Linked DNA regions of Homo sapiens: region 1 is linked to region 2. Evidence: fine-mapped expression QTL. A gene starts in region 2. The other region holds a variant in brackets. All regions are shown on one strand. Distances are between the middles of the regions.

What was found.
Region 1: its variant is fine-mapped to the expression of KRT72 in unexposed skin (GTEx, PIP above 0.99).

What each region holds. Positions count from the first base shown.
Region 1 is chr12:52,639,305-52,644,680 of GRCh38, reverse strand. KRT2 (keratin 2) reads left to right here. Exons shown (of 9, transcript NM_000423.3): 9 at 1-123. Among named protein-coding and RNA genes, the nearest start is that of KRT2, 10 kb to the left of the region's middle. The variant C/T (reference allele first, on the strand shown) is at 2,375.
Region 2 is chr12:52,598,683-52,604,058 of GRCh38, reverse strand. It overlaps KRT72 (keratin 72), which reads left to right and starts at 2,596. Exons shown (of 9, transcript NM_080747.3): 1 at 2,596-3,032; 2 at 4,947-5,161. The coding sequence starts at 2,607.

The DNA of each region.
Region 1 (5,376 bases), 41 kb before region 2:
CATCTCTAAGCCTGGCAGTGCTGGGGGGAAATGTGTTTCTGTGTATATAGCTCCTCTTGTCCACTCTGCTTTCGGAAGTGCTGTGGTCTGGGGGTCTTCATAATAAACCTCATTTGCAATTCATATCATGTGCTGTCTGCGTGATGTCAAACCTTGGTGGAAGTGGGCAGCCATGGACAAGGGAGGTTTGGGCATTAAGGAGGGGCTCCTGGGTGAGGAGCGTGCCTCCCTGAGGGAAGCCCAGGCGCCAGCCTCTGGATGAATGGGAGCCTGGGGATGGGTGTGTGGTTCTCAGAAAGTATTTACCAGACTTGAGGGCCATGGCATTGCCGGGAGGTGGACAGGTAGATTTGTGGAAGAGTCTCTTTTCTAGAAAAACCCATTCTTCCTGAGCATTTCCCACAGACTGCCCTCTCCCTTTTCCACAAAGGCTTTGGCCCGGGATCACTTCTCCTCAGGGCAAAACCGCTGAGCCCCTGGCACCATCGTGGTGAGTTTCCAAGCTCCGAGCTTCCAAGGCAGACCTTCCTCAGCCTGATGTAGGTCCTGGCCTCTGTCTCTGCGGGGGCTCTGAGCAAGCCTGGAGGAGGATACCTGGGAAGAGTCTGGAGGACTCTAAAGTGGCCTCCAAAACAGCCACTTCTATTTTCACAGGACACCCCTCCTGTCAGCGGAGTCCCACCACACTCAGCAAACAAGCCCTTCTCTCCTCTCTCACCGCAGCCCCCGGGGCCTGTCGCATGGATGTTGCCATCAGGTTGGCCTTCTCCTGTGGGTGTGAAGATGCCTTCAGCCCCTTCCTCAGGAAGGCCATGTCACCTGAGCAGGGCTTCCAGGGAGTTCAGGAATGGTTGGGCAGGTGGGATTGGGCATGCTTGGGGTTGGTGTTAGACAGGCCAGAGTTGCCCAAATGGGAGTTGGTGGCTCAGGCTAGGTCAGCTTAGCTTTCTGTATGTGGCGTTTGGTTATAGTAGCTGTGGCTTAAAGCCACTCAGAACCACTCCTGGAGGGTCCTTTTTTCTCCCACTCCACCCCAGCTTTAAAACCTTGGAGAGTCCTTAGTTGAGTCTGTGACCGTCTTCCTGTTCCCAGAGGTTGCAGGGACGGCTCTAATAGAGAACAGATGCATTCACTTGCCTCCAGACCAGCCAGGACCCAGGTATGAGGGTGCTGCAGGAACAGCTCTGAAGGCTGCAGGTGGCAAGGTGGCAAGACTCCAGGCTGAGCATTCTAAAGTGATCCGCTGATCAGAGAAGGTCCCTGAGAACCACCCAGGCCTCAGTCGTGGGGAGAGGTCTGTGGGGAGAGGGTGCAGGTTGGGAAGAAGTGGTGTGAGGAGCTGGCTGTTTTCGGGTATGTACATAGTGTAGACATGAACACAACCTTTAACAGGGACTTGGTCCCAGACATTTGAGGCTGGACAGGAGCTTTGGTAATCAGTGTATTTGAACTTTTCACTTAGGTGAGGAAAAAGGTAAGGCCCAGGGTGGACACAGAAACCAGGTCTCCCACTCCCAATTTATTCATTTTTTAAAAGGCTTTGGGAATAGCAATCCATTCTAATAACTTTCTGAGGGGAAAAGAGGTGAGGCAGGTAAGGTGGCAGATTTATTCCCAGGGGAGCCTTAATTCTATTTTTTTTTTTTTTGAGATGGAGTCTCACTCTGTTGCCCAGGCTGGAGTGCAGTGGCATGATCTCAGCTCACTGCAAACTCCGCCTCCCGGCTCAAGTGATTCTCATGCCTCAGCCTCCCGAGTAGCTGGGATTACAGACATGCACCACCATGCCTATCTAATTTTTGTATTTTTGGTAGAGACGGCGTTTTACCATGTTGCCCAGGCTGGTCTCGAATTCCTGACCTCAAGTGATCTGCCTGCCTCAGCCTTCCAAAGTGCTGGGATCACAGGCGTGAGCCACTGCACCCGGCCTTAATTCTTGAGACTTTCAGTGGTCTGAACCTCTAGCTCCTTCTATCGTTTCCAGTTCCCCATCCCTTCCCCACCTGAGACACAGCCCTTCTGGTTTCCAGATCATATATATGCTACTTTCTTGCTGGACTCCAGTAGTAAAATTAGCCTTGTACATTAACTCAGAGGGACCCAGGCCTGAGGCGTGACAGAAATCAAGCTCTAAGCAGGTATTGGAGAGAGGGGCTACCTCTGGAGAGGGACCCTCCTTTCCCTCCGAAGTGTAGAGTAGCCCAGAATCTGGGCCACACCCTCCCACCAGGGCCCTCTGCTGCTCCTCCACCAAATTTGGTAATTGACTTGTCAGGTCCTGGGCTTCAAAAAGGAGACAGGCACAGGCAGAAGGGTTTTACGAGCTCGATTTCCATAGGGAACTGGGTTAAACATTTCCGTTCTGATGATGTTG[C/T]AGAATATTTGGGACATCCTCCCTCTTGTGGTTCCCTCCCTTTCTCTGCCTGTGAGTTTTAGTATGAATTCAAATAAACCCTTTTTCTCTTCCTCACCAAATTCTTTCTTTCCTGTCATTTGAAAGGAAATTCCTTTGGACATTTCACCTCCTTCAGGACAGCTCACCTCCTCCAGGAAGCCCACCTAAATGGAACACTCCTGCCTCCTTTTCTTGCTGTGAAGTGGGGAAGGAGTGCCCTGGGAGTGAGGAGACTTCAATGCTGATCCTCATCTTTGTGGGAACTGTTGCGTGACACTGGGCAAGTCCTTTCTCCTCTCTTGGCTCAATTTCTGCCTCACTTTAAGGACTTTCAGTGGCCAAGATTGTTTCTACAGATCCTTCCAGCTCTGATGAAAAGAACCCTGTCTGTGCTACCGGGTCAGCCAGTGCTTACTCCTAAAGCCTTTCAGCCCAACAGGGGATTTGGGACACTGTCAGGATATCCAGAGAGACCCTTTGTGAATAGGTGTGAGCATGTGAAGCTCAAAGTGGTTTTCATTCTAGTTCAGTAAATGCCTGTTGGACAATGACTGTGGGCAAGGTTGTGCATGTGGCTACGTGGGCGTATCAAGACTTATAAGACAGTGCGTCCTGTCAGGGATTTATGGTCTAGTAGGGGAAGAATGAGAAATTTGCAAACAGCTATTAACATAAGGCAGAATGTAGTAGTGTGCATTAATTTCATTAAGCGGCCCTTACTAAAAATACATATTCTTTGTTCCAGCATCCCCTCCTTCTCCCTGAGTTTCCACTACAGAGGAGTCTAGAAATCTGCATTTTTAACAACCTCCTAGGTGATTCTGATGCTGGTGACACAAGGGCCATGGTTTGGAAAGCACTGATGGACATGCTAAGGGAGCGGGCTCTGGGGTGGGCTCAGTTGCTGGCACCTTGGAATTTAGTAGGCACTAAATGAAAAGTTGATGATCAGATAAAAGAATGTGTGACCCTGGGCAAGTTATTTAACAACTCTGAGCCTTTCTTTACTCATTTGTAAACAGGTAGCAACAACAGCTTCCTCAGAGGATTGCTGGAGGTTTACACACTGAAATCAATGATAAATGTTTATTCTGTAGGACCTGTGCCATCATAAGCATGCAGTACTGTAGGTTACATTATTATTATTATTGTAAGTTACAGGCAGTATTTTGGGACCGGAGAAGACCTCATGGATGAGATAACTTTATATCCAGGCACTGGCAGATAGGTGGGATTAATTAAAGAGTAATAACAATTCTGCACGAACTGTTTCAGAAGATGGAAGAAGAAACACCTTCCATCTTGTTTTATAAGGCCAGCATTAATGGAAGAAACTAAAGAACAAATCCCTCATGGATATATATATATATATATATATATATATATATATATATATTCAAAAATTATCAGCAAGATATGAGCAAATTCAATCTAGAAAGATATAAAAAGGATAATACATCATGACCATGTGTTTAAAAATATTGTTTAAAAATAGTGAGGTATATGTTTAAAATGTATCCCAGAAATAAAAAGCTTGCTCAACATTCAAAGAATTAATGTATTCACCATATTGACATAGAAGAAAAAAACATAAGACTGTATCAATAGATACAAAACATTTGACAAAATTCAACACCCTCCATGGTAAAAACAAACAAACAAACAAAAACAACAACAACAACAACAGATTCTTAAACTAGGAGTAGAAGGGAACTTCGTTAGCCTGATAAAGGGCATCTGTAAAAACCCATGGCTAACATACTTAATGGTGAAAGTCAATGCTTTTCCCACAAGCATTTCTTGGGAACAAGCAAGCGTATTTGCTGTCACTACTCCTATTCAGCATCGTACTGGGATTCCTAAATAGTGCAATAATGCAAGAAAAATAAATAAAATCCTACAGATAGGAAGAAAGAAATAAAACTGATTTATTAATATATGATGTGATTGCATATGTAGAAAATCCAAAGGTATCTTATTAGTCAACATATTTCTGTATTGAGAAAATCTTGATTTATACAGATAGATGGGTGTAAATGGTAATGATATTTGTAACTAATTAGACTTGAAATTTCTGATTACTTTCCATTGAAAGATAGATGGCAGGGGAAGCTGTAGTTCAAAGTGCAGAACGCTGAGTTAATCTAATGCATTGTTGAACTCCAGTAAATTAAAATTTACTACAGATCACATTCGAATGTGCATGCTGTTTATTTTAAAGTCAACTTTAATGAGGATTCACTTATAAATAAGAAAATGCATTGTATTACATTTTAAGCATATACCTCAATATTTTTAAACAAATGTATACATCCTTATAACCTCTATCACAATACTTATATAGAAGATTTCCACTACTCCAATGAGTTACCCTATGCCCCCAGCCAACTTTTGATCTCCTTGTCGATACCACTGACTGGTTTTGCCTATTCTAGGATTTCTTAGGGTTGATGTACCTCCTCTCCAACACTGGGCATTGCCAGTCTTTTTCATTCTACAGGGTGTGCATGTTATCTCTTTGTAGTTTTAATGGCATTTTCCTGATGACTTGTGATGTGCAGTGTCTTTTTTTGGTTCTTATTGGGCGTTTGTACATGTTTTAGGAAAGGTCTGTCCAAATCTTGTGAAAGTTTTTATTGGGCAGTTTGACATACATAGTTGCAGGAGTTCTTTATATACTCTGGATAACAGTCATTTGTCAGGTATATGTATTGTCAATATTTTCACTCAGTGTGTGGATTTTCTTGTCATTTTCTTAATGGCATCTTACAAGCAGCAGAATTTTCTAATATTGATTAATTCTAATTTATCAAATTTTCTTTATAGTTTGGACTTTTGGTGTCTTAAGAAATCTTTGCTTACCTAATGGTCACAAACATTTTCTCCTACAATACAAACTTTTATCCTAGAAGTTTTATAATTCTAGTGTTTACATTGTCTATACCCCATTTTAAGTGGCCATTGGGGTATGGTCTAAGGTA
Region 2 (5,376 bases):
CTGATGAACTTACACTTATGCAGCATTATCACCTCAAGTCCCTGGTTTACACTGGTGTTCACTGGGAAGTCTGTGGGTTTGGACAAATGTATAATGACATGTAGTCATCATTACAGTACTGTACAGAATAGTTCACTGCCCTAAAATTGCTCTAGCACTAAGCATGTTAATGGGCCTAGAAAGTCCTGCAATAAGATGCCTGCTTCATTTTTTTTTAAACCAAGCACAGAATCCATTCCCATATCTTTTTTTCCCATGATACCTATTAACTTCCCAAGAAGTAGTGTTACAGGGCAAGGAGACCCAGTTTAACCAGCAATGCATTTTCAATTCTCAGCCTAGAGTGGTTTCATCCGTCTTTTGTAGTAAAGATCTGATTTCTAAGGGCAATGTTCCTTGTCTGGTTTACTAATCCAGGGGTTGCTTTAACCCAAGAACTAATGACAGAGGTGGTCACCAAGGCCTGAGGTGACACCGTAAGCTGCTGTCAGAGGCAGAGGCAATGAGAACCCCTCCTCCCAGGCCTCAACCCCCTTTGATCTGCTGACATCCCCACACATCTGAGGCCTTTGAAATCTGCATGTGTCACTTGTGTCTCCTCATGATCTGTAATAAAGGTGATTCAGGGGTTGAGGAATTCCTTATTCATCCAGCCAGTCAACCCCTCATAGGAAGATGAGAAAAGGTCATCTTACAGTTCCCTAACCCTGGGCAGAAGAGCCCTGGTCCCAGGATATCTCAACTCCTTAGAAAATTTCTAGGAAGAAAAAAAAAATTATTTCAAAGACACCCTTTGTCAGTCAATCCTACGTAAAAATTCTCCTCTTTCAGTGTAATCCATTCCTTGCTTTTCTATTCTCAATGGCTGGAATAAATAAATTCATTTTTGTGCTTGTGGAAAAAAAACTGGCTAAAATTACGGGGTAGAGGGAAAATCTCATGTAATAATAAAAAACATAACCTTGATCTTCTTGAAGGGTCTGCTGTCACCCAGCCACACTGACACTGCCCTTCTCCTCTTCAGAGGGAAGGGACTACAGCCCCTCCTCTGAGGCAGCACTGAGAGCCCACCCTCTCTCCCACCTAGGACACCCAGATGCCGTTATCTGTTCATCTGTGATCGGTGCCATCTCCAGCGCTTAACAATGCCCTCACAACTTTGTTCCCCGTGGAGTAAACGCTTCGGCTGTTATTATGTCCTGTCATTGGCCCAGTGGAGGCTATGTCAGCCAATTACCCCCAGGTACCATTTAACCAACCCATGAGGTCCCCAAGGGGAACCCAGCCTTCAGGGTATCACTGAAGGTGCAGTAACAAGCCTTGCCCTAAGCACTCTGCTGTTTCACAATCATCCTAAATGTCCCTTTGGCCAAGGCCTGGGCTGAGCACTGGGGGAGCAGAGGAGGGAAGGGTGAATCCAGGGGGCCCTGTCAATCTGATAGAGGAAATGGAACACACACCCAGGACTCTGGCAGCTTAAGAAATAAGAGCAATGAAATAATCCCACCTGCATGCCAGAGGAACAGGAGAGCTGTTGCTAAGAGAGGAGGAGACTTGAAGGCAGCTTAAGTTTGAGAAAAGGAAATCGGGTTAGGTGGAAGAAGGAGCCTCTGTAGCTTAAAGGGAATGAAGTTCTAGAATCTAGTTCTTGGTTTTAGATCTGAAGAGTCTTGACCTCTTCCTAATAACTGATCACATTTTGATGCTGAATCAGAAATGACTGGGTGGCAAATGACCTGAGCAGAGGTTTGCTGGATGGGATAAATAAGCCTCTTCTGCTATTAAAAGAAAACAAAAATGAAAACAACCGAAAGCCTTAGGAAACACCATCTGCTAAACCATGCCTGAGTCTTCCTGTACCACCTCCCCAGGCCTTCTTCCCTCCCTCCCAGATAGCATGGTCCCCATTCTTAGTCCAGAAATGCTTAGTGGAGAAATCTTTTCGCTCTGGTCCAAAGTCAACCCTCAACACTTGTGACCAGAGGTCTCTGTGTCCTGCCTTCTCCAACAGACTGAGAGGTCTCTGCAGACGGGGCCAAAATCTCCTCCTTCTGAACTTCCTTCTTGCACAAGGGACAGAGCTGTCCTCATCCAGAAGCCTGGGAGGCAGGAGGAGGACAGGCTAAGGATGATTTTCTGCGATAGTCTTGACTCTATTCATGGCCTTCTGAAGCAGAAGCAGCCTGGACTTCTGCTTCACACACCTCCGTCTCCCCAGACACACACCCAGAGGGTCAGCCCCACTGGAAGTTTCCAGGGGTGATCTTGGGAGTGATAACCCCAGTAATTGGAGGCCAGCAGGTGGAGATAAGGTCGCTAAGCCATGATAATGCAGGAGGTGAGCCAAGTAAATGCTGGGTTCTGGGTCACTTTACAGGGATTCATGGGGAGTTCACGGTGGAACAGACAAAAATCTCGGTGAGTGCATGGTAATTTCCTACATGAAGAACCCAAGAGGCCTCAAGGGATCTAAAAGGTGTTGTCGACATACAAATTAGGCTGACTCCAGCCAGCCAGGCTATTTAAGGGGCGAGCTGGGCCGAGAACGCAGCGGCTGTTTGCGCCCCTTCTGCCTCCCGCGCGGCCAGCACCGGTACTTGCGAGCCATGAGCCGCCAACTGACCCATTTCCCCCGCGGGGAGCGCCTGGGCTTCAGCGGTTGCTCCGCGGTCCTCTCTGGCGGGATCGGCAGCAGCTCCGCCTCATTCCGGGCCCGGGTCAAGGGCTCGGCCTCCTTTGGCAGCAAGAGCCTCTCCTGCCTTGGGGGCAGCCGAAGCCTGGCGCTCAGCGCTGCTGCACGGCGGGGCGGCGGCCGCCTGGGCGGCTTCGTGGGCACCGCCTTCGGCAGCGCCGGGCTGGGGCCCAAGTGTCCCTCCGTGTGCCCACCCGGGGGCATCCCTCAGGTCACCGTCAACAAGAGCCTCCTGGCCCCGCTCAACGTGGAGATGGACCCCGAGATCCAGAGGGTGCGCGCCCAGGAGCGGGAGCAGATCAAGGCGCTAAACAACAAGTTCGCCTCCTTCATCGACAAGGTGAGTCCTCGGGCATTGGCCTGTCCCTGCGTTGGGCGCATGTGCACAGTGGTGCTGGCTCTGCCACTGGCGAGCTGTGTGGGAGCGTGGGCGGGTCATAACCTCTCCGAGCCTCCCTTTTCCATTTGTAAAATGGGCACAATAATGGGTCTTACTCCAGTGGGTTGCGATGAGGCTTAATTGGGATGTTTACGAAGTGCTCAGAACAGTGCCTGGCACATACTTCCAATAAACAGGATGTATTAGCCCATTTTCATGCTGCTGATAAAGACATACCCGAGACTGGGAAAAAAAAAAAGAGGTTTCATTGGACTTACAGTTCTCCATGGCTGGGGAGGTCTCAGAATCATAACGGGAGGCCAAAGTCACGTCTTATATGGCGGCGGCCAGAGAAAAATGAGGCAGAAGCAAAAACGGAAACCCCTGATAAACGCATCAGATCTCGTGATACTTATTCACTATTAGGAGAATAGCAGGAGAAAGACCGGCCCCTATGATTCATTTACCTCCCCCCTGGGTCCCTCCCACAACACGTGGGAATTCTGGGAGACTTAATTCAAGTTGAGATTTGGGTGGGGACACAGCCAAAACGTATCAAGGACCTTCATTTCTTTCTTGCATGAGACAAGACTGTGAGAAGGGAGGGGTCAGGATGTCCAAGGAATGGGCACTTTGAGAGCTCCCAATATCAGAAGAGGAGATGGGACCCACATTCAGGGCAGGGCATTAGGAACAGAGGCCAAGAGACGTTGCAGGACATGGTGCTTGGTGCTTGAGGAGTGGGGTAAGTGTGTAGCCAGGAAGATGATAGAGGAGGTGAGAGAAAAGGGCCAGAAAACTGAAGGGTGAGGCTGAGGAGGCACTTGGAAAGAGTGCATGTAAAGTTACAGGTGTGTGCTGAGGGTGGGGCATCCAGAAATTGGGGTAATAGGGAAGTTGTCTCTGGAGCTTCTGAGGCAATGACCCCAGTGAGTGGAGAGGAGACAGGGAATGGACTTCTCTTGTCTCCACCTGGATGGAAGGTCTAGACGGTGAGTGATAAGGGGACAGCCTGATAACAATAGCTGACATTTATGGTGCCGTCCCAAGTGATTCTCATTTACAATCACAACCCATGATTCTGTTGTTGTTCTGCCTTGCAGATGAGGATATTAAGACATGGGAGGCTAAGAAATGAGCTCACCTTGGACAGGACAGTTGGTGGTGGACCGAGTGTCACCACTATGCTAGGGAAGAGGAATTGAGGTGGCGGGAGGGCACAGGTCTGCATGGAAGAAACACAGCAGCTATTCCAGAGGCCAGAGCATTCTCTTGCTCTTTTATGTCTGTTGTTCCCTAGCATGTTTCCTTCTGCCCCTCAAGCTGAAAGATAGGTGAGAAGAGGAATGCTGGTGTGTGGCAGAGGGCTTGGAGTTATTGAGTCTAAAAATGTGCACCCTGGTCAAGTATGAAGGAACTTTGTGAAGATGTGGTAACTTGCTGTGAACAACAAAGAAATGAACAAACCAAGTGCAATTTAGGCTACACAACAGGAGGAACGCTCTAAATGCCAGTGTGCTTTCCAATGTCACTCCCCAGTCCCTGTTTCTCCCCTGCTCCCCATTTCTCTTTACTCAGAAAACACCAGCATTTATAGCATGAGAAGCTACCTCTGTCTCATGAAAACTCACTGAGGCAGAGGCAGATGGTACCATTGCTTAAGCCCTCTTCCTGATTCCATATAGACCGGGTCCTATTTCTTGTCTTGGAGATCCAGGTGAGCATGTCCCTCGGCTGAATCCACCCCGGGATAAGCCTTGTTTTCTCCTACCCCCAGTCCCCCAGGATGGCTGCCTCTGGTTTTTGGGGCCCTTTCCCCACTCTTGAGAGGCAACAACATGGGGACTCTGGGCGATGACTGCCTTTGGGTTCCAGGTGCGGTTCCTGGAGCAGCAGAATCAGGTGCTAGAGACCAAGTGGAACCTCCTACAGCAGCTGGACTTGAACAACTGCAGGAAGAACCTGGAGCCCATTTATGAGGGCTACATCAGCAACCTGCAGAAGCAGCTGGAGATGCTGTCTGGGGACGGGGTGAGGCTGGATTCGGAGCTGAGGAACATGCAGGATTTGGTGGAGGACTACAAGAAGAGGTGAGTGAGTGGCAGGGAATATGGCCCTGGAGGATCTGATTTCAAATGAGGTTTTCGTTTGGAGATGGCATTTTTGCTTCTGAGATCCTTGCTGATACCGGGGGAGGGAGGAACATCCAGACAGAATGGAACTAGGAAAAGAATAGATCTACCTACACCGGTTCTCCAAACTGTCGAGGAAATGTGTGCTCAATTTCTAGCACTGAAAATGAAGG